7 linked regions of the Homo sapiens genome follow. The protein of the gene in region 6 interacts with the protein of the main gene of each other region in a biochemical or structural test. Each region holds a gene or a part of one and is shown on either strand. Other genes may lie near its edges. The genes, in order: RAB29, CLVS1, TCF25, CDC42EP3, FOXP1, LRRK1 and BAG1.

The links.
Region 1: the proteins of LRRK1 (region 6) and RAB29 form a complex in vitro, tested with the Homo sapiens proteins (one large-scale study listed by BioGRID).
Region 2: the proteins of LRRK1 (region 6) and CLVS1 form a complex in vitro, tested with the Homo sapiens proteins (2 studies listed by BioGRID and IntAct, with this or other methods).
Region 3: the proteins of LRRK1 (region 6) and TCF25 form a complex in vitro, tested with the Homo sapiens proteins (2 studies listed by BioGRID and IntAct, with this or other methods).
Region 4: the proteins of LRRK1 (region 6) and CDC42EP3 form a complex in vitro, tested with the Homo sapiens proteins (2 studies listed by BioGRID and IntAct, with this or other methods).
Region 5: the proteins of LRRK1 (region 6) and FOXP1 form a complex in vitro, tested with the Homo sapiens proteins (2 studies listed by BioGRID and IntAct, with this or other methods).
Region 7: the proteins of LRRK1 (region 6) and BAG1 form a complex in vitro, tested with the Homo sapiens proteins (2 studies listed by BioGRID and IntAct, with this or other methods).

Annotation. Positions count from the first base shown.
Region 1 is NC_000001.11:205,767,486-205,769,984, forward strand, and holds the end of RAB29 (ras-related protein Rab-7L1), read right to left. Parts: 3' UTR 501-2,499; downstream 1-500. UniProt on the Homo sapiens protein: The small GTPases Rab are key regulators in vesicle trafficking. Essential for maintaining the integrity of the endosome-trans-Golgi network structure.
Region 2 is NC_000008.11:61,290,970-61,294,469, reverse strand, and holds part of CLVS1 (clavesin-1), read right to left. Parts: intron 2,153-3,500; exon of another isoform or gene 2,016-2,152; intron 1-2,015.
Region 3 is NC_000016.10:89,904,592-89,908,091, forward strand, and holds part of TCF25 (ribosome quality control complex subunit TCF25), read left to right. Parts: intron 1-346; coding exon 347-505; intron 506-1,602; coding exon 1,603-1,693; intron 1,694-2,651; coding exon 2,652-2,731; intron 2,732-3,500. UniProt on the Homo sapiens protein: Component of the ribosome quality control complex (RQC), a ribosome-associated complex that mediates ubiquitination and extraction of incompletely synthesized nascent chains for proteasomal degradation.
Region 4 is NC_000002.12:37,665,143-37,668,642, forward strand, and holds part of CDC42EP3 (cdc42 effector protein 3), read right to left. Parts: intron 1-3,500.
Region 5 is NC_000003.12:70,968,229-70,971,728, forward strand, and holds part of FOXP1 (forkhead box protein P1), read right to left. Parts: intron 2,578-3,500; coding exon 2,508-2,577; intron 1-2,507. UniProt on the Homo sapiens protein: Transcriptional repressor. Can act with CTBP1 to synergistically repress transcription but CTPBP1 is not essential. Plays an important role in the specification and differentiation of lung epithelium.
Region 6 is NC_000015.10:101,072,857-101,076,356, forward strand, and holds part of LRRK1 (leucine-rich repeat serine/threonine-protein kinase 1), read left to right. Parts: 3' UTR 1-3,500.
Region 7 is NC_000009.12:33,258,209-33,261,708, forward strand, and holds part of BAG1 (BAG family molecular chaperone regulator 1), read right to left. Parts: intron 2,962-3,500; coding exon 2,879-2,961; intron 826-2,878; coding exon 712-825; intron 1-711. UniProt on the Homo sapiens protein: Co-chaperone for HSP70 and HSC70 chaperone proteins. Acts as a nucleotide-exchange factor (NEF) promoting the release of ADP from the HSP70 and HSC70 proteins thereby triggering client/substrate protein release.

The sequences.
Region 1 (2,499 bases), on a different chromosome or scaffold from region 6:
CATTCAGTTTTTCAAAAAGGTCACGTTTCCAAGTAGTATTTGGCATGTTCCATCAAGTACTGAATTGGTACTAGGCAGATGGATCTAAGCAATTGGTATTAGTAAGTTAACAGGTAAACAGAATAATATTTACCTTCATTTTAAAAGAAGGTATTTAACCACATTTCTCACTTGTAAGTGGGAGGTAAACATTGGGCACACACATAAAGATGGGAACAACAGACACTGGAGACTCCCAAAAGTGGGGAGAGAGGGAGTAAGCGTTGAAAAAGTGCCGACTGGGTGCTATGTTCACTACTTGGGAGACAGGCTAAGCAGAAACCCAAGCTTTAGCATCACACAATATATCCATGTAACAAACTTGCACACGTACCCCTTGAATTGAAAATTTAGAAAAAGGTATTTAAAAAATAAAGTCTCCATTTCCGCAATCCTCTTGAGCTATCAGTATAAAACAGCACTTTGACAAACTCACATTAAAGGCCAATAACCACCATGAATACAAGACTTAGTTCTCATTTATTTGTGATTTTGCAGGTGTTCAAACCAATGAATGAAAATCAATTATCTCTTCATATCAATGAAATTCACTATTTCACTATTATCTTCAGAATCATAGTGATCAAAACCCTACCTGAAAATGGTAATACAAAAGAGAACTATTAATACAAGGTTTCAGAAGACTGTGCAAGTTAAAATAATTGGCATTAAAACGACACACAACAAACCACCGAAGGTTTGGTCCCTTTTCTCTCTGATATGTGGCCTCTGATCTCTTTCTTAGGGCAGTGGTTTTCAACGTCTGTGTAGCAGAATCACCTGAAAAGCTAACAGAATATATAGAAACCCAGGATTTGTATTTGTATTTAAATGTAAATACAAAAGGTCTGGGTCTCTGTATCTTTACAAAGTTCTCCAGCAATGGTTTCCAAACCAGGCTTATCACAATCACCAGGGAAGCTCTGAAAACAACAACACATTCCTAGGCTTCATCCCTAGAAATTCTGATTCAGTAGGTTTGAGGTCGGGACCCAAAAATCTTTTTCTTTTTGTTTTTTTTTTTTGGAGATGGAGTTTCACTCTTGTTGCCCAGGCTGAAGCGCAATGGTGTGATCTCAGCTCACTGCAACCTCTAACTCCCAGGTTCAAGCGATTCTCCTGCCTCAGTCTCCCAAGTAGCTGGGATTACAGGTGCCCGCCACCACGCCCAGCTAATTTTTCTTATTTTTAGTAGAGACGGGGTTTCAGTATGTTGGCCAGGTTGATCTTGAACTCCTGACCTCAGGCGATCCACCTGCCTCAGCCTCCCAAAGTGCTGGGATTACAGGTGTGAGCCACCACGGCTGGCTCAGGACCCAAAAATCTTAAAACATTTTTAAAAAATTTTAACAAACTTCCCAGGTATTCCCGACCAGCCAGATTTGGGAACCACTGACTTAGGACACTTATTTAAGGTCTATCACAGAACTTCAGGCCTCAGAGTTTAGTAAGAATATCGATAACTTTGGGTAGGTTATAAATCACCATCCTAGAGATAATTTAACAAATTAAATGGTCTAGTAGTGATTTGATACTAAAAAGCCCTGCCCAATTTAGTACTTAAATTACCTAATGATTTTCTGTCTATCTACTTTCCTCCCCCAGGCTAGGACCTGCACATAATATGTTTCCTATGACTAAGTGCCTACGTGTTCACAAAGTTGCCCCAGTGGAGGTTGTTAACTTCTCTCTTTTCTTCTTCCATTCAGATTCCCAAAGCTGTGAGGAGCAGACCTATTTCGAAGCATCACAGCCAGCTGATGTCACTTGCAGTATTATGCATTAAGACATCAACCCAGAAACCTGCAAATGGGAGACACTAGGCAATCCTATCATGAGGATTAAGCTCTTTGTGGAAGAAAATGCTTTCATTGCATGAGATAGGTAGTTTAAAAATGACTATTCTTTTTTCTTTTTTTTTTGAGACGGAGTCCTTCTCTGTCACCCAGGCTGAAGTGCGGTGGCATGATCTCGGTTCACTGCAACCTCTGCCTCCCAGTCTCAAGCGATTCTCCCACCTCAGTCTCCAGAGTAGCTGGGATTACAGACACGTGCCATCACGCCTGGCTAATTTTTGTACTTTTAGTAGAGACGGGGTTTTGCCATGCTGACCAGGTTGGTCTCGAATTCCTGGCCTCATGTGATCCGCCTGCCTTGGCCTCCCCAAGTGCTGGGATTACAGGCATGAGCCACCATGCCCGGCCAAAAAACTTGACTATTCTTGATGCCAAGACAAGAGAAACTTAATTATGACGTTAGAAGTTTCAAAAATACAGTGACTTCTGGGACACTTCTAGTAGCCAAAAATCCACAGATGCCCAGACCCCCTCCTTCTGCATTCCAGAATCAGATGTTTACATTCCAAGACAGAAAGAATCTGAAACAACGGCCTACAAGAAATTTGGGAAATGACATTTGATCTCATTTTCCTCTCAATTGGAAGTCATGATATCAATGAAT
Region 2 (3,500 bases), on a different chromosome or scaffold from region 6:
AGGTAAATATTCGGGGTACATAACAGCTAAGTCAGATAATGAGCTTGTTTTAAAGTTGGAAAACCAACAAATATTCATGGAGTACTTATTAGATGCCAAGGTCTTTGATATTATATAGTCTAATTTCCACAGCAATCCTTAAAGGTAGGTTATTACTATTAGATGAAAAGATGAATCTGAGATTTAGATATGGCTGAAAGAACAAAGATTTGCACTCAAACCTACTTTACCCACGTTTTGTCCAAGACTCTGCTCTCCAAGTAGGTGCCTTGTTTAACATCACTCTGAGTACCGGTGCCCTCACACTCAACTACACTCACATAATAGACACACATCCACACCCTGTCAGTCCTAAAGGACATCATTTAAGGGGTGTTGTAAAACTGCCCAAATTTGGGGAGGAAATAGAATATTGTTGTCATGATCAGAAAGATAAAATCTGTAAAGCCTAAATATTATTTGAAATATAAGAACATCAATAACTGCTGAACAACACTTCAAATTTGCATGGCTTCTGGGTGTTCTTAGTAATACAAAGAACAGTTTTTAAGTACACATAAATTTAAATTAATACAAATATAAAATAAGAAACAATAGCCATATTTGTTTTGTGGGTTTCTTTCATAAGAAAAGGATGAAAAATTAATACCGGTGACAACACTTTGTACAGAAAGTCTAACCAACTAACTCATCCATTGGTATGTGTGAATTTTTGTTTCCAAATTTTTAATATATATTGAATTGGGTTAACCCTTATAGCTCTTTACCTTGCTAAAAACTTACTTCAAATTTTTAAATTGAATATGAATTTTTACCTAGGAATACCAAAAGAAATTTTTATACTGAATGAAATAAAAATAGATGCTGCTGATATATCTAAGCCAAAACTGAAAATCATAGTGACCAAAAATATTTCTTTTTAAGTGTAACTCTATTTGAAATCTTTCTTGAAAGATAATACACTCCCTTACAGCCTATTTAGCCTATATTTAAATCTCAGAGGCTGGTTGGTTACATGTTCCATGGTGCTGACCAGAAGGAGTCTTTTTTCTGATGGATGAATTTTCAGATTGGCCATTATGGTTTGTAGGACTTCTGCATGAGTACTGGCTAAGGAACATCAGACCTGTGGGTAAAAAGTGACCCTGAATTCATTGACTTTCTTTAAATGTTAGCCAACTTACAGATATAAACTATCTGTACTAGGGGCAGGGAGAGTAGTCTACAAGGATAGAGAGGAGACTCTGAATTATCTGAAAGCATAACGTGACCAGAATTTAGCCCATGCTACACAGTTCACCTTTCACCACCTTTAGCTTAGTCCTAGCCTAGGACTAACTCTTGCCACATAAATACTCATTGTGTAGACTCCCTTGGCTCCCTTTAAAACAGCAAAGAAGCACACAATCATTTGCTCCCATTTGGTCCTGCTCTCAAGAAATGTTAAAAGTAGATTGGAATGAGCTCCATCAGAGTAGAGACACTGAAAACTTTTGTAACCAAAATAGATGCCAGGTCAGAATTAGAACAGACTGCAACTCAGGGAAGAAGGACCTATGTGACAGAGGATTCTAGAACCATTTTGCAGTTTTCTTTGGGGCAAATAATGCAAGGAGTTGAGGGGAATGCCAACTTATAAAGTATGAGATTTTTGTTCCTCCTCACTGTGTTTGGTAGAAAAAGTCTTTAATTGAAGTAGCATTTACCTTACACCTCAATGTATCTTAAACAAAGTTAATATATAGGGAAATAATTGTTGAGTCATAGAATATTAGACTGGAATGTTTCGTAGGCTATTCAACTATCCCCATAAGAAGTCATTGGCAGTTGATACCCCAATTTTTAAAACAGATTAGTTGTGCTTCCTAGGGGTATCAATGGGAAGAGAAAGGAAAACAAACAAACAAACAAAAACCTTGACCCTTCTGTCTTCAAAGGGAAAGAGTATTTCTCTAAGAATAGATTCTCTTTTTTAAGGAAGAGGACCTAAAGGAGATAAGAAAGGTAGGACTCACCCAAAAACGGCCATTAACTCTATTTGCCCCCTTTTCCACTAATTGTTTTCCCAGCAGATCCATGTAACCGTGACCCTTCTTCTGGATGTGATTGCACAGACAATGGCAGCAGTGGGAATCACAGCTAAGAAAACTGCCTGGGAAAAGTAAAACACATCAGCAAGCTTAAGGGTGAGGTGGGAGGAAAGAGGCTATTTTTATAACTTTCTCCTCAATTAGAAATAGAATTTCTGAGCTCTTATTTCTTCAGAACATGGAGTGGTTTTTGTTTCATTTTAGAATGGGTCTTATTATTTAATAGTCAGACGTAAAAGTGAGAATATTAAAAAAAAAAAAACTTTTCTTTGCCCTGGCTTCTCAAAGGGTGGTCCATGCATCAGCAGTGGCAGCAGAACCCAGGACCTTGTTAGTGACACAGCATGTCAGGACTCACTTAGACCTACTGAACAGGTAACAGAATCCCCAGGCAATTTGTATGCAAATTAATGTTTGAGAAAAGCTGGTCCAGAGGATTTATAACGACCCAGAGGGGTTGAGAGGTAGGTTAATTGCCTCTGAGGCTAGAACTCATGCTGTCTGTGGACAGCCCTAATGCACTGTCCAGGAGGAACATAAAAGTACCCACAATGTGTTCTTTACCTATGGAGCAATGGCACTCATAATAGTTTATCAGATCACCCTGTTAATTACTCTCACTATGTTTGCATGCTCTATATATCAACCACAAAAGAAGGAAGAGAGGAAGGCAGGGAAATTTAGAGAGAGGGAGGGAAAGGAGGAGGGAAGAAGAGAAAAAAGGAAAGAGTGAAAGATCTCATGGGTTTTGTTTATTTTGTTTTAATTTGACCACATATTAAGAAGTTTTTATGTACAGATCCTGTAATTTAACACGCCCCCCTACAACATGCTATTCCCAGGCCCATAACTTCTCTCCTACTTCCTCCAAAACTATAAAATAATGAACAATTGAATAAGCTATGTAAATGACACACAAATATATGGAACTTTGTCTAAGACCTTTGATACTATTTTAAGGAGCATAGATAGAAAAGGAGTCATCAGTGGTCTGCACAACATTTAGGAACAGATTTGGCTACAAGCATCCTAGAAACAAGAACAGATCATCTCAAACACATGTGGAGAAATTTCTGCTGGCTCAGAAATTATCAAGCACAAAAGCTCACAGGAAATTAGCCTACCACACAGGGAACTTTCTCTGATACTCCCTGTCACAGAACAGGTGCATAAAGGGACAGAGCCTAGGGCAACCTGACCTGAGAAGGTATAATAAAGGGCTATGGGAGGCATCAGACTTAGGGAAGAAAAATGAACTTATTATCTCAATAAATGGAAGCTTTTTATGGGGCAGGGGATGTTTGGCCAGTTCATTTTCAATCCATAAAGAATCAAGCAAAAGAATATAAACTTCCCTTAAACTAAGAAAAACTTAGATTGGCAATTAAGCATAAGTTTCAATAAAGAGAC
Region 3 (3,500 bases), on a different chromosome or scaffold from region 6:
ACAAAGAGGGAGCAAACACAGGAGAAAGTGCACGCCTTGGGGTCATCCCCTGGCCCTCCAGGGCTCGCCCTGTGTGCACGCAGATGGACCCGCCCTGGGTGCATTTTCACATTTCTGTGACGTCAGTCCTGCTTCCTAAAGAACATAACCTGCCCAACAGGCTCACGGCACATACCTGTGTGCCCCAGCCCCACGCCCTCAGGCCAGCAGCCCAGGGGCCTCCTTTCACTCCAGGCCACAGGGCACTCCCTGGACCCCCCGTCTGCCCATCCATGGGGCTCTGCCAGCCTCGAGGCAGGCTGTGGTCTGAAGAGGGGTTCTGCTCAGAGCCCTTGCTCTCCCCCAGCCAGCCCCCTGCCCTGAGCCAGCTGGTGAACCTGTACCTTGGGAGGTCACACTTTCTCTGGAAAGAGCCCGCCACCATGAGCTGGCTGGAGGAGAACGTCCACGAGGTTCTGCAAGCAGTGGACGCCGGGGACCCAGCCGTGGAAGCCTGTGAGAACCGGTGAGCTAGGGGTTGACACAAGCCCTGCCACGCCCCCTCCTCAGGGACCCTCATCCCAGACACGGGGGCCTCGCATTCGGGAGGCGAGAAGGGCTGTGAGCAGCTTGGCCTCCCTTGCTGTGGGGCCTGTGTGGAGCCTACAAGACAGCGCACAGCCCCTGGCGTGTCCCAGAGGCTTCCTGGGAGGCAGCTGTGGTGATCAGCGCAGGGTACCGAGCTGCTGTTCCCGGGTGCCTCGGGCTGGAGTGGTGCCTTCGGGTCTTGCAGTGTTTCCACATGAGCTGTGAGATGATGACGAGTCTCTCACAGCAGCATCTTGGGAGTAAAGAAATCTGGCAGAGACGAGAAAGAGTCTCCTGTCCTGTGTGTGAACACTTCGGAGGCTCATGCCCTAATATGCTGCAACTGACAGGCATCCCCTTGCTGTTCTTGTCTCGTTTGTCTGCGCCCTTGGCCCTGTGCTAGTTCTGTGCATCAGCACCGTGGCTCTGTGCAGTGGTGTGGCCAGGCTCAGGACCGCCTGGGAGTGGTGCCCATTTGCATCTCCACAGTGAAGTCTGTGTGCCGCGGACATGAGGTGTGCCCGGGGGTGCCCAAGAGGCGCTGGTGCCCCCAGCCGCTGGCAGTCATGGGCCCGTCCGCGTGTCTGCTGTCCCCACTGGACTGGACATTCTCATGGACAGGAGCATTTTGTTCCCTGTACTGCTCTCCAAGAGCGATTTCCAGCAGGGACCAGTGCCTGTGCCTGTAGCCGTAGCAGTGACGATGGTGACACACCCAGGTGTCCCTTCATGGAGATGAACTCAGTGACTTCCCACAAGAAGCCACTGGCTACGGCTCTCATCGTTCTTGTTCTTTGGATGAAGAGGCTGAGTCACTGGCCATGTGGCTGGGATTGGTCCCCAGAGGCTCCCCAGCCGCAGGCCAGGGACCAGCCATGGTGCCTCTGCTCGAGAGTAAAGTGTACAGTTTTTGCAGCCACCAGAGATGCAGCGAGATGCCTCGTGCTGGGTGGGGGTGGGGGCCGAGGCTCCATGGCGGTTACCATTTCATTTGCTGTGCTTTATCTGCTGTGCCTTGTTTCTCCCCGGCCCTAGGCGGAAGGTGCTCTACCAGCGTGCACCCAGGAATATCCACCGCCATGTGATCCTCTCTGAGATCAAGGAAGCCGTCGCTGCCCTGCCCCCGGTAAGGGAGAAAGGCTGAAATGGGAGCTCTGTGTAAGCCGGTCACATGCACGTCCCTTCTGCTCCGGGCGGTCCACATGCAGGCGTGCGTGGTGCGGGCTCCCTCAGCAGCCCAGCCCCGCCACGGCAGGGGCAGGGTCTAGTGCAGAGGGCTCCTCCTTTCCTGGCAGCCCGGGTTCGGATGCTTGTTGTTTTGAGAGAGAAATCCTTTGGGGCTCAGAGCACAAGCTGAGTCGTCACCGTGGTGAGCTGCTCCATCCGTGGTCTTGTGAGCGCGTGGTGCGGCTGCTGGGGGATTCTCTGTAGTCGTGGGGTGTAGTCCTGCTCTGACGCCTCCTGTGCTGGAGGTGCCGTTTCTGTCTCAAAACCTAAGGAGTTTGTACTGTTGTTAAGGGATAAGATAGAACGAGTGAGAAAACCAGCAAGTCAGAGGGTCGCAGGACCGTGGACCGTCCACTGGGGACAGCTTAGTGCCTCCTGGTTTAACTTCAGCTGCTCTGCGGGCCCTTATGACCGGCATGGCTGGCTTTGTCTGGGGCTGTGAGCTTCTGACTCTCCTCAGTAGAGTGGCAGCACGTGGCACTGTGCAACCCGAGGGCAGCTCAGGGTCCCTGTAGCCTGCATTTGCTGAAGTGGGAGCTTCTGACACGTGGTGAAGATGTTGGCAGGCTTGAGCGGCACGTGACCCCCTTCCTTCCCCACCACACACTCTGGTGTGCAGGGCAGACGCCGTGCAGGTTCATCTCGACTCCCGTGAGTGTCCTGGTGGCAGAAGGACTGTCCCACCCTCACCCAAAGCTCGTTGGTACAAAAAGCACAGCCGTTTCTGTCAGACTCTGTGGCTATCTCTCAGCAGATGCATCCAGTCCATGCTGGAGTCGACAGAAGGACTCTGCTGGGAGAGGTAGAGGCCCCCTGGCAGCATCTGTAGCATCTTCGTTTTATGTCCCTTTCTGAAGGACGTGACCACGCAGTCTGTGATGGGGTTTGATCCTCTGCCTCCTTCGGACACAATCTACTCCTACGTCAGGCCAGAGAGGTACCTCCCTCCTTCCAGTTCCCACCTCCCAGCTCCCACCTCCCTCCTCCCAGTTCCCAGCTCCCAGCTCCCACCTCCCAGCTCCAACCTTCCAGCTCCCAGCTCCCACCTAGCAGCTCCCGGCTCCTGGCTCCCACCTCCCTCCTCCCACCTCCCACCTCCCAGCTCCCACCTCCCTCCTCCCACCTCCCACCTCCCTCCTCCCAGTTCCTACCTCCCATCTCCCAGCTCCCAGCTGCCACCTCCCAGCTTCTGCCTCCCTCCTCCCAGTTCCCACCTCCCAGCTCCCACCTCCCAGCTCCCGCCTCCCTCATCCTAGTTCCCACCTCCCAGCTCCCAGCTCCCTCCTCCCACCTCCCACCTCCCTCCTTTCACCTCCCACCTGCCACCTCCCGCCTCCCACCTTCCAGCTCCCGCCTCCCACCTTCCAGCTCCCGCCTCCCTCCTCCCAGTTCCCACCTCCCACCTCCCAGCTCCCACCTCCCAACTCCCTCCTCCCACCTCCCACCTCACCTCCCTCCTCCCTCCTTCCAATTCCCACCTCCCAGCTCCCAGTTCCCACCTCCCAGCTCCCGCCTCCCACCTCCCAGCTCCTGCCTCCCTCCTCCCAGTTCCCAGCTCCCACCTCCCTCCTCCCGCCGCCTAGCTCCCACCTCCCAGCTCCCGCCTCCCACCTCCCAGCTACCGCCTCCCTCCTCCCAGTTCCCAGCTCCCACCTCCTACCTCCCAGCTCCCGCCTCCCACCTTACAGCCCCTGTCTCCTCCCTCC
Region 4 (3,500 bases), on a different chromosome or scaffold from region 6:
ATAACTTAAATGTAGTAAGTGTTACAATAGGAGAAGATACAAGACACTATGGAAATGCCTCTGATACAAGAAAAAAGAGGAACAGAATCACAGTTTAGGGCCAGGAGAGGGCCTGGGGAACATCCACACACTTCTCTGGCCTCCCTTCCCATCCCCACCCTCCCACTCTGCCATTTTTTTTCACAGGTGATGGGATGGAGCCTGCCCAGAGAAGGGGAAGGATTTGTTTTCTGACTAGCTGGTCAGCCAAAGGCTTAGAGCCTCATCTCCCGCTGTGTTAAAATCAATGTTTTAAGTCTGAACTGACCCTTGGCAAAACAAAAGTTTAAAAAATAAATAAAAAGGTTGAGAAATCAAACACATTCTGAATGGCAAAGCCACATTTCACCAAAAATGCCTCTGCTTGTTTTAAAAAATGTATGTAGCCTAAATGATTATGATGTATTTGGACAGAAAAGCTCTTTTTCAACTAAACTCATGACAACGATCTATCATTGGCATGATGTGTCTACAAATAGGACCTTCAGGTTGTCACCAGAACATGACGGATTCCCAAATGTGGAAGCTGTCTAAATAGAGGCCTGACTTGGAAGTTCCCTGCCTTCCACGCTTGCTCAGGCTGCTCTGCCAGAGATCTGCACGGGTCTGTTTTTCAACCCAGAGTCTTACATTATTAGTAGTAAGATAGCTATGCTAATAGGTGCCACTGATCCTGGCTCACTGTTCTGGAGCCAGAGATTATCTGAGATCATCTCTCACCAAATGCTACGTTTTAGGGATGAGAACAAGAAAACCCCAAGAGGTCAAGGTTATACAATTTGGGTCAGAGCTAAGACCAGAATTGGTATTTTTTTAATCTCTATTTCTACACACAGACACCCCTTTTGATTGCCCTCACTTAATTCTCCATTAGTTTTATCAGCGTTTGCCAGGATCTCCTGGTACATCCTCATCGCTCTCTTCCTGTAACGCCTGTGGTTCTCTAACTAAAATGTCCCTGGGTTGCTTCGGCTCTGTAGGACATACTGCGGTTATGTAGCTTCTGTTCTGTGTTTCCCAGAGTGTGTTTCCTGCCAGGCTGGTCCTGCAGCTGCTCAGTGGGCAAAACCATTTGAGAAACTCTGGACACGACCTCCCTGTGGAGATTCACTATATACACTGGCTTTTTAAATGTTCTGAGAAGTCCTGCAGAAAGGGACCTTCATCAAACTGGGGTCCCACAGAATACTTTTATGACATTCATGGCTCGAGGTACACTTTAGGCGGTACCCTGTTACCTAATTGCAGGTGTGTGATCTCTGCAACATGGTTTAACAAAGGGCCAAAGGCTAGAAGGCTAATAATAACTTTATCCAATATGGAAATAAAACCCAATCCACTGAAAATCCTTTTTAAAAAGTTTTAAATTTGGGATTCTAGAATTCTATTAATTCATGACTTAGGCAAGCAGTAAGGACTAAGCAAACACTAGTTTGGAACTCATCAGCTTTCACACAGTTTACTTGGCTATTTAGAAATAGTAATCTTTTAAATCTCAGCATCATGCTTTGTATTATAAAACTGTATGGTTAAAATTTGAAAACTGCTTTTCTACCAGAGGTACTGTCAAATTCAGTCCATCATCATGTGATTCTGATGAAACTTGGCACTGAAGTATATCAAGGAGAAAGCTTTTTTTTTTTTTTAAGGAAAGAAACACACCTGACTATTGCTTTAGAACTACATGGCTACTTATTCTGGTTTGTGGGGTATTGTTTTGTTTTGTAGCCTTTAAGAGGTGGGGACAGGAGAAGATTTCAAATGGAATTGGACAGCTCCAAGACTGTAACCATTGGCTTTGAGGCTACCTGAGTTACTTCGGACTGTCCTTTCCAGAACCCTGTTTCCATCTGAGAAGTCTCTGGAGCTGATCCCCACAGCTAATCACAAACCCAGAGCATCAAAGCAGTGGAGGCCAAGGCAGGCCCTGTGGGTTTTCCGGGGCAAGCAGTAAGGACAAGGTTTCAAAGGTTTCCTTGTTGTGTGTTTCTTATCTAGCAGGGCCCAGGGGATATGCTGAACTGTAACAGGGCTTGACTTCTGCCATGGACACAGCCCAGTGCCTTTCTGTTCACTTTACCTGTAGCTCCTCTTCTGCTGAGTTCTTGCAGCAACATCATCAACAAACATGGACTAAAACGTCCACTGAGTGCCGGGACTGAAGGCCCAGGTAGTGTGGTTCCTGCCTTCAAGGAGGGGATTGTCCACAGGTGGTTACTGGACTCTGCAACCCCGGGCTCCCCAGAATTTTGAAGCGAGCACACAGTCTATGCTAGAGCTTCACTTCATCCCCAGCCACCAGAAGTCCTTGTCCCTGGCTGTGGCTTGGCTTGCTTTCTCACCATATAGTCCCACATTTTCACCTAGTAAATCTCTTCGTTTATGGCATAAATTAAACTGCTTATGTTAACCCTAGCAGTGTTCATGCTAGATCCACTTTCATGCCACATATGTGGGATTGAATCATCTTTAATAATAAAATAATTTACATAGTGTTCCTCAAGGCTGGCAATTACTGTCATCTTCAACTGTGAGATACAGGGTGATATGAAATTATTTCCTTGCCAGAGGCCAAAAGTCATAACAAAAATCAGATTTAACAACTTCTCTGCCCCTCCTCCCCATTGGTGGGGGTGTGGTATTTAGTATAAGGTCAAAAAGACCTGAGTTCAAACCCTGCTTCTGCTATTTAGCTGTGTGACCTTGGCCACGTTACTAAACCTTTCTGAGCCTGTGTTCTCATCTGGAAAAGAAGAGCAATATAATAGTCTGCCTTATCCTCCACGGATATGTTCCAAGACCCCCAGTGGGTGCCTGAACCTTGGACAGTACTGAACCCCATATATACTATGTTGTTTTTTATACATACATACCTGTTATAAAGTTTAATTTGTAAAGTAGGCACAGTAAGAGATTAACAATAGAATAATTATAACAATGTAATAAAAATTACATGAATATGGTCTCTTTCTTTCTTAAAATGCCCCATATTCACCTATTTTCAGACCATGGTTGACTATGGGTAACTGAAACCCTGGAAAAGAAAACCACGGGTAATTGGGGACCACTGTACTATCTCTCTCAAAGAATAGTTATGAATATTACATGACAGAACCAGTATTAAGTACCTAGGAAAAAAACAAAAGCAACATTGAAAACCTCAACCTTTTATTGTGGCTACTCTGGGCCAGGCACTGTTCTGAGTACATAATCTTTTTTAACTCCTTTAATCCTCAGGGAAATAATATTATCTCCATTTTACAAAGGATAAACTGAGGTAAAGGTGAGGTAACTTGCCCAAAGTCACACAGGTGTTAAGTGCCAGAACTAGGACATGTGCCCAGGCAGCCTGACTCGGAGGCTTCAGAAGTTCAGTTTTTTTTCCCATCCCCTTAACCCAAAGAGCTGCTGACTTTCACATAGGATTAGCCACTCATGCCTGCACATATTGTGTTGTTAAA
Region 5 (3,500 bases), on a different chromosome or scaffold from region 6:
AAATGGGCTGCAGAGAGATCCCAGTGCCTGATCCGCAAGAGAGCTTCTTGAACACGCTCTCTGTTAAGCAAGTGATCAGAGCAACCCACCCAAGGTTAGATAAATTTTCACTAACTGCTTCTGCCTAACAAAGTGTTTTTTTTTTTTTTTTTTTGGTAGTTGATGTCCACTTAGAAGCAGGTGTGTTACAAAAATGGAGTTAATTATATAAATGGTCCTTGCACAGCATGTGGTTTCATATCAAGCTGGCACCTCTGCCAAAAAATGAAGTTGCTTAAGTAATGGTGCAGAAGTCCATAAGCACCCTCGCTCCTGGAACATTAACCACTCTGAGATCCTCAGGGGAAAGGCAGTCTATAAATACGAAGCTTTACGGTTACCCTTAGTTACTTCACTTTTCAGAGCATAATGCAATCTGTCCCAAGTCCCATGTTTTATTTCTGTAGTGGATTCTGCTGTCCTATTTTATATATTGTATATCATGCATTATGTTGCTCTAGTAATTTTTTTGAAGATATTGTTCCACTATTATTTTTACTTGTCTTGAAAAATGGAAATAGGCGGTAATGGAAAGGAAGGCCTGCTGGCAGAATCCTTATTTAATTTGCACAGTAGAAAGTTGTCTTATGTGTCTGTCTACTGATCAGGGATCCAAACTCGTAGAAGAGAGGGAAACAATCCACTTCTCAAATCATGAATTTGTATCAATTTATTCCCCTTGCCTCATTATGGACGGAAAGTGTTCTTGGAAAACGGCAGGACAGTTTTGGGCTACTGAAGAAGATGCCAAAAGCAAATGTTCAGAGATGAAACCTGAACAGTTCTGTAATGACAAAGCATACTAATTGAAATTAGTCACATAGTTAAGAGAATTCAGAGGATGGAGGATCACTTTTTTTTTTTTTTTGCCTTTCCGGCTCATGAATATAAAATGTGCTTGTAATCTTAATACTATTCCATATTCCAGATAGAGCAGGCTTTAAATTCACACTTCACAAGACTCCAGGGAAAATAAGTTACTAATGAATGGTATTTACAGTGGCAGCATCGAAGCATGCTTTCATTTACTCTTCTAAAGTTACTGTGTAAACTACAAGTAATTAAAAGAAACGCAGAAAGTAGTTTCTCCTATTAAATCTGGTTCAGGCTAAAAATAAATAAATATAATTACTGAAATGCTAAGGCCAGTGAATCTGCCTCTAAACTGAAACTGGGTAAATGGCCTATCATCAATTCCCAGGAGCCTTAAGACTATTCTGGGCCTGTAGGGTACAGAGTCGTGCTCCATAAATATCTGTTTAATGTCCATAAATATCTGTTTAATGCAGAGCAAGACCCAGGGCTCCTGTCAGTATCTCCTCCTTCCTCATCCTGTTCCCATCATACTAAAGGTCTCAACTGTTTTTTCATTATTGTCCCTTTTTAGACTTTTGTTTCTCTCTTTCTGCCCTCACCCCAAGAAATGTTCATATTTGCTCAAGTATTATGGTCCTTTGGAAGGACACAAGACATTGCAGTATCTCAGAACCAATCTAGGGGTGATACAGCCCCCATTGAGAATGTATGCTGCAGAGGACTGCAATGGTATTGGATGACAAATGTCAGATTTATCTATAGAATATGCTTCTCGAACAGTCTGGGTAGGGGCAAAAACAGGACCACTGGCCAAAAGGATACTGCTTACTTATGAACTCTTGAGGGGGGACTTGAGTACTACACCCAGGTACTTTAATGAAATGACACTGGAGTAGCCTTCATTTAAGAACTGAAATGTGCAACATGTAAAAAGTTTGCTAGAAGCTGGGCTGCCTCAGGTAGCTCCTTTTTGGGTGGTAATCTCGCTCCTGCTCAAAACCCGCGTCTTCATCTCCTGGTACCATTGGTGATGTAACAAGTACTTGGTTTGTCAGTAGGAAATAAATACTCCGTGTGATTATCATGTAATCTTGAACAATCTGCAGGAAAACTAAAGAGTCTTCTTAAACACCTCTATTGTTTAAACAGACATGGTTTACTTTTACAAAGTGAACCAGACCCCAGATCCTCCCCACCCCAGACAAAAGCCAAGATGCTACAGTCGACTTTAAAAGAAGAAAAAGAAATACAAAGCCCTGCTTTCTCTTTAAACCCATGAACAATAGAAGGTCATGTGACGCAGTGGCCTATCATCCAGCACATTAATAGCTGTGCTAGAGTAATTACACTTGTGGTATTTTTGCCTCAAGTGAAATTCTGAAATAAGAGGATGGAAATTATGATACTGCTGATAAATATTAATAAGTGAACTTTTAATTTTTTTGCCACAATATTCAAAATGCTAAGCATCCCGCTAACGCTGAAGCAGCCCGATGTGTTTGCCTCCAGGGAGTATGATGCTTTGTGCACTTAAGAAAAAAGTTTAACGGAATTAAAATTTAATATCTAATTAGAGCAAGGCTAATATATTTTGAAATGAGTAGGGGAGACCTGTGCCTCTGCTGCATATTCGGGACGGCCGTTAATCTTACCTGTAAAGCTGCATTGAGAGGTGTGCAGTAGGCGTGGCTGCTCTGCATGTTTTTAATAAGGGAAGGGTTACTGTGTAAGAAAAACATAAAAACTCAAAGTTAAACACAGTCGACTGCTGAGTTCCTAGCTAAGTTTTGTTTTAAGCTTGCTGGTGCCCTTCCAAATGAGCAATTTCCCCCACTAGCAAAACCCAAGAAAAGTCAGGCTTTCTCCCCGTCACTGATTTGCAGGGCGGGTGTGTGTGCACACCTCTGGGGTTGGACTTCTCTATTCAAGGAAACTAGGTGTAAAATTCTGGCTTAGGTAGTAACAGGCTTGGGTCCTCCCTCCAGAGACCTCTCTGCAGATTTTTAGGAGTTAGCCTGACTCCAGACTCCAACAGAAAGGAAGGCAGCAGCCTAGGAGGTCGTGCTGGGGAAGGCAGTGAGCTCACAGCAGGGGCTGCTGGGCACGAGCAGAGAGAATCTTGGCTCCTAAGCATCTTTGAGATTTGAACTTTACAGTGACTGCTAGAGGGATGGCAGGAAGGCTTTTAAGGAATATCCACAAGGCACGTTTATTGCCAACAGGCGATGGAGAGTAGGGTATGCCAGGGGAGGGTCGTTCCTAAATAAGGGGATGTCTTAGCCAGATCTGGGAGGGTCTGAGAATATTTGCTGCCATCTCCATTCACGGACCAAATGAAACTAACATACTGTTGTCAGAAAATCTCTAGCCTCGTAAGGATAAAAATATTAAAAAATTACATAGGGCATACTGAGGGAAAAGGGTGCCTCCCAGTAGGCAATTACCTACATTTATCAGTGGTCTTTAAAGGAAGTGTATGCAATATGACCTATTTCTTTACTATGCTTGGAACATTTTAGTCATTCACTTCATTACATTTGTATTATTATAGTGAGTGAACAAATAAGAAATCTACCCCAATAGTATATACACACATTTTAACTAACCAAAAATTCCCTTTTTACTTGGGGTGGGGAGAGAGGGGG
Region 6 (3,500 bases):
CAGGTGAAATAAACAGCCTTGTTGCTCACACAAAGCCTGTTTGGTGGTCTCTTCACATGGACGTGCATTAAATTTGGTGCCGTAACTGGCGCGGGGGGAGGGGGGGGGGAACCTCCCTTGGGAGATCAATCCCCTGTCCTCCTGCTCTTTGGTCCATGAGAAAGATCCACCTACAACCTCAAGTCCTCAGACCAACCAGCCCAAGAAACATCTCACCAATTTCAAATCCAGTAAGCAGCCTCTTTTTACTCTCTTCTCCAACCTCCCTCACTATCCCTCAACCTCTTTCTCCTTTCAATCTTGGCGCCACACTTCAATTTCTCCCTTCTCTTAACTTCAATTCCTTTCATTTTCTGGTAGAGATAAAGGAGACACGTTTTATCCGTGGACCCAAAACTCCAGCGCCGGTCACGGACTGGGAAGGCAGCCTTCCCTTGGTGTTTAATCATTGCAGGGACACCTCTCTGATTATTCACCCAGGTTTCAGAGGTGTCAGACCACGCAGGGACGCCTGCCTTGGTCCTTCACCCTTAGCGGCAAGTCCCGCTTTTCTGGGGAATGGGCAAGGACCCCAACCCCTTCTCTCCGTGTCTCTACCCCTTCTCCGCCTTTCTGGGGGGCAAGAAACCCCCAACCCCTTCTCCTTCACCCTGAGCGGCAAGTCCCGCTTTTCTAGAGGAGGAGCAAGTACTCCAACCTCATATCTCTGCGCCCCAATCCCTTATTTCTGTGCCCCAACCTCTTATCTCTGTGCCCCAATCCCTTATTTCCATGCCCCCACCTCTTATATCTCTGCACCTTGATCCCTTATTTCCACATCCCGACCTCGTATCTCTGCACCCCGACCCCTTTCCCACTTTTCTGGAGAGTAAGAACCCCTGAACCGCTTCTCTCCGTGTCTCTACTCTCCCTTTTCTTTAAACTTGCCTCCTTCACTGTAGGCAACCTTCCACTCTCCATTCCTCCTTCTTCTCCCTTAGCCTATGTTCTCAAAAACTTAAAACCTCTTCAACTCACACCTGACCTAAAACCTAAATGCCTTATTTTCTTCTGCAATGCCGCTTGACCCCAATACAAACTCAACAGTAGTTCCAAATAGCCGGAAAACAGCACTTTCAATTTTTCCATCCTGCAAGATCTAAATAATTCTTGTCGTAAAATGGGCAAATGGTCTGAGGTGCCTGACGTCCAGGCGTTCTTTTACACATCAGTCCCTCCCTAGTCTCTGTTCCCAGTGCAACTCATCCCAAATCTTCCTTCTTTCCCTCCCGCCTGTCTCCTCAGTCCCAACCCCAAGCATCGCTGAGTCTTTCTAATCTTTTCTATAGACCCATCTGACCTCTCCCCTCCTCCCCAGGCTGCTCCTTGCCAGGCCGAGCTAGGTCCCAATTCTTCCTCAGCCTCCGCTCCTCCACCATATAATCTTTTTATCACCTCCCCTCCTCACACCCGGTCCGGCTTACAGTTTCCTTCCGTGACTAGCCCTCCCCTACCTGCCCAGCAATTTTCTCTTAAAAAGGTGGCTGGAGCTAAAGGCATAGTCAAGGTTAATGCTCCTTTTTCTTTATCCCAAATCAGATAGCGTTTAGGCTCTTTTTCATCAAATATAAAAACCCAGCCCAGTTCATGCCTCGTTTGGCAGCAACCCTGAGACACTTTACGGCCCTAGACCCTAAAAGCCCAAAAGGCCGTCTTATTCTCAATATATATTTTATCACCCAATCTGCTCCCTACATTAAATAAAACTCCAAAAATTAAATTCCGGCCCTCAAACCCCACAACAGGATTTAATTAACCTTGCCTTCAAGGTGTACAATAATAGAAAAAAGTTGCAATTCCTTGCCTCCACTGTGAGACAAACCCCAGCCACATCTCCAGCACACAAGAACTTCCAAACACCTGAACTGCAGCGGCCAGGCATTCCTCCAGAACCTCCTCCCCCAGGAGCTTGCTACAAGTGCCAGAAATCTGGCCACCAGGCCAAGGAATGCCTGCAGCCCAGGATTCCTCCTAAGCCGTGTCCCATCTGTGCGGGACCCCACTGGAAATCGGACTGTCCAACTCACCTGGCAGCCACTCCCAGAGCCCCTGGAACTCCGGCCCAAGGCTCTCTGACTGACTCCTTCCCAGATCTTCTTGGCTTAGCGGCTGAAGACTGACACTGCCCGATCACCTCGGAAGCCCCCTAGACCATCACGGACGCCGAGCTGCCAGTAACTCTCACAGTGGAAGGTAAACCCGTCCCCTTCTTAATCAATACGGAGGCTACCCACTCCACATTACCTTCTTTTCAAGGGCCTGTTTCCCTTACCTCCATAACTGTTGTGCGTATTGACAGCCAGGCTTCTAAACCTCTTAAAACTCCCCAACTCTGGTGCCAACTTAGACAATACTCTTTTAAGCACTCCTTTTAGTTATCCCCAGCTGCCCAGTTCCCTTATTAGGCTGAGACACTTTAACTAAATTATCTGCTTCCCTGACTATTCCTGGGCTACAGCCACACCTCATTACTGCCCTTCTTCCCAATCCAAAGCCTCCTTTGTGTCCTCCTCTTGTATCCCCCGACCTTAACCCATAAGTATAAGATACCTCTACTCCCTCCTTGGTGACCGATCATGCACCCCTTACCATCTCATCGAAACCTAATCACCCTTACCCCGCTCAACACCAATATCCCATCCCACAGCATGCTTTGAAAAGACTAAAGCCTGTTATCACTCTCCTGCTACAGCATGGCCTTTTAAAGCCTATAAACTCTCCTTACAATTCCCCCATTTCACTTGTCCTAAAACCAGACAAGCCTTACAAGTTAGTTCAGGATCTGTGCCTTATCAACCACATTGTTTTGCCTATCCACCCCATGGTGTCAAACCCATATACTCTCCTATCCTCAATACCTCACTCCATAATCCATTATTGTGTTCTGGATCTCAAACATGCTTTCTTTACTATTCCTTTGCACCCTTCATCCCAGCCTCTCTTCACTTTCACTTGGACTGACCCTGACACCCATCAGGCTCAGCAAATTACCTGGGCTGTACTGCCCCAAAGCTTCACAGACAGCCCCCATTACATCAGTCAAGCCCAAATTTTTTCCCTATCTGTTACCTATCTCAGCATAATTCTCATAAAGACACACGTGCTCTCCCTGCCGATCATGTCCGATTAATCTCCCAAACCCCAACCCCTTCTACAAAACAAGAACTCCTTTCCTTCCTAGGCATGGTTAGTGCAGTCAGAATTCTTACACAAGAGCCAGGACCGCACCCTGTAGACCTTCTGTCCAAACAACTTGACCTTACTGTTTTAGCCTAGCCCTCATGTCTCTGTGCAGCGGCTGCTGCCACCCTAATACTTTTAGAGGCCCTCAAAATCACAAACTATGCTCAACTCACTCTCTACAGTTATCATAACTTCCAAAATCTATTTTCTTCCTCATACCTGACATATATACTTTCTGCTCCCCGGCTCCTTCAGCTGTACTCACTCTTTATTGAGTC
Region 7 (3,500 bases), on a different chromosome or scaffold from region 6:
TCACTTGAACCTGGCAGGCAGAGGCTACAGGGAGCCACTGAGATTGCACCACTGCACTCCAGCCTGGGTGACAGAGCGAGACTCCATATCAAAAAAAAAAAAAAAAAAAAAAAAGCCAAAACACAAACACACCCCAATTAATGCTATAAAATGAGAGGGAAAAATAAATAAAAGTGGTCTTGAGCTAGTCCTAATCCTTACTGGGTTTTAGTACCCCATCTCTAATATAAGGAATTGAATAGGATGACTCCCCCAACCCCACTATCATGTTCAACTTGGACCTTCTATGAACCAACAAAATGTTATTTGCCTTGCCAAACACATTACAACAGCCCAGAGAGAAGCTACTTGTTCTATTTCAGACAATACATGATCCTAGCAAGGCAGGTGCTCTCCTGTGAGCATAAATGGATGCTGGCTGGGGTTTGACAATAACTATGACAATAAATGCTTATAAAGCACTTAGTATGTGTCAAGCTCAATCTACATTATTTAATTCTCCCAACAATCCTAATAGGGAAATGTCACCATTATTCCATTTTTACAGATGAGGAACTTGAGACAAAGATAAACTTGTTCACAGTAAGAGAAAGGGTGAATCCAGGATCTGAACCCAGGGAGTCTGACTGCAGAACATGTCCCCATAACCACAAGTTATATCCAGGAAGCTCTGATAGAAGGCAGAAAGTTAAGGTCCATGAAGAGAGTTACCTGCTGGATTCCAGTAAGCTCTTTATTCAACTCTTCCAGCTGGTCAGCTATCTTCTCCACAGACTTCTCCAAATGTTTCAACTTCTTTAGTTCAACCTCTTCCTGTGGACTGTTCTAAAATGTTTAAGAAGAAAATAAAGCCAATAGTCAAAAAGAACAGGCTGGGCATGGTGGCTCATGCCTGTAATCCCAGCACTTTGGGAGGCCGAGATGGGCAGATCATTTGAGGTCAGGAGTTCAAGACCAGCCTGGCCAACATGGTGAAACACTGTCTCTACTAAAAAAACAAAAAAATTAGCCAGGCATGCTGGCGTGCACCTGTAGTCCTAGCTACTCGGGAGGCTGAGGCAGGAGTATAGCTTGAACCTGGGAGGTGGAGGTTTGTAGTGAGCTGAGATCGTGCACCTGTACTCCAGCCAGGGTGACAGAGCGAGACTGTCTCAAAAAAAAAAAAGAAAAAAGAAAAAGCAATCAACAAGAACAGCAGCCTCTGTCAGGAAAAATACCTGACCACACCTGCATGAAGCCACTCACCTAGAAATAACAGTTTTAACTCTGTTGCTTCTTGGAAATCAAGTCAAAGGGTTATACATCAAGTTTTCCATCTACAAAGACTCCAGACTAGAGAGAAGGTGTTAGGTAAACATTCTGGTGAGGGCCCTGACAGCTTGGGTGCAGAGAATGGAGACAATCCAAGTGCCAGATTCAGTCTCAGCCCTATACTGATCAACAACCAAGACTGAAGCCTGGAGGGTAATCACATTTCAGTAAACACTTGTGAGGAGTCCAGAATGGCAAGAAAGGTGGAATTCTACCATTCCTTTAAATGGAATTCCTAAATGGCAGCCTCCAATTGAGCGCTCCTGTTTAATGTGATGCTGGTTAACAACGATGAATACTTTTATTGAACACTTCCTACATGCCACACACTATCCTAAGCACCTTACCTATTTTTTAAGCCTTACCACAACTCCATCAGGGAAGTACTGCTGTTTTACAGATGATGAAACTGAGGCTTAATGTAGTAAAGTAACATGAGATCACACAGTCCAAAAGAGGTAGATTAGACTTAAGTTCAGACTTTTTTCTTTTTTGAGATAGGGTCTCACTACGGTTCCCAGGTTGGAGTGCAGTGGCTGTTTACAGGCATGATCATAACTCACTGCAGCCTCAAACCCCTGGACTCAAGTGATCCTCCTGTCTCAGACTCCCAACTTGCTGGGACAATAGGCATGTGCCATGGTGCCTTCCTTGAGTTCACACTTCGCTCCATACGCTCTGTGTCAGCTCCAAGTAAAAGTCCTATAGTTTCTTCAAACTTGACTCTTTGGTTCTGCCTGTTGCCCATCACCATTCTCCCTGACCCTGAAGCAAGAAATTTAGAATATTTCCCTCTTCTCTCAGGTAAACAATTGATAGATAGGTCTAGCAGCTTTCTGCTTAGTTATGCTATCCCAAATTATTCACTTCTCTTTGTGGCAAGTCCTGAGTTCCAGTCTCCTGGCAGTTCCAAGTCTGGATTAGATTTTTTTTGCCTTCACTTTGTTTATCTGCCCTCTCTCTACTCAGCCACCTAACTCACAATAAGGGAACTTCATATGCTCATAATTCTGCTGTGTCACAATGCAGGGCTGGCCACAGCCCTCTCTCATCACCTTAAGGGTTGCTGACCTCATCTGTCTTTTTTTCCCCTCAGTTCTTTAGTCTGAACCTTCCTTTCCAGTCGAAGGTTTTCCCTTGTGGGAGATTTTAGTTAAAAGGTTGGTTAAAGGGAGAGAGGCTCCTGAACTGGAACAGAGTGATTATTCTTAATATCTACAAGTTTATTTTAACAAAAGACTCTTGCAAATTCTACTCCAAGTGAATGAGACCTGTCCCAGGCACCATTTTAACCAGACCAAGATTCCACCACCAAAACAAAAAACATATTATTAAGGCAGCACAACCGCTCCTAATTCCTAGAGCAAAAGTTCTAACCAACAGGAGCAGGAGGGTATGAGAACAACAAAACTGGTAATCCTGTAAAACCAATAAAGATTGTATTTGTTTAGAGAGGTGTTTTATCAATGCAGAATCTGGGTCCCCAGTTTGGTCTTCTAAACAGAAACATGTATAAAAGACTTCAGTCATTTGATTCTGAGGATTTCTGATGGAAAAAGCAATTTACCTTTTTCCCAATTAACATGACCCGGCAACCATCTTGTATTCCAAGTGCTGACAACGGTGTTTCCATTTCCTTCAGAGATTTTCCTAAAAAGAGGAGAAAGGTAGGCCAAGTTGTAATAATTGTACAACACTGAAAATAAATTTCAGCAGGATACAGGAAATAGACAAGTGTGTTCACTAATGAGAACTGGTATCTTTTTAGAGGGTGTCATGACCCAGTAATTTCATTTCCAGATATTTATCCTAAACAAATAATTGGACATGCGACTCCACAGTAACTACTATACGATAATATTCAGTGCAACCTTTTCATAATAGTGAGAAACTGGAAAGAGCCAAATATTCAGGAATCAGGGACCAACGAACCACACTACAGAAGACTTTAAAGTCTTCAGTAGGCATTAAGGTCTACAGTAGCCATTAAAGCTCATTTTTTGCAGGAAACCCCAATACCACAATGAATGCTGATGACACAGTGTTATTATGAGGGGTTTTATCCAGGGGAACATTTTCTTTTTCATGCATTCCTCTATTTTGAAACATGAATTTCTATTGTCTTTATAATTCAGAAATAAAATATTTTTAAAAATTAAAGACAATATGTTACACTATGAAATATAAAT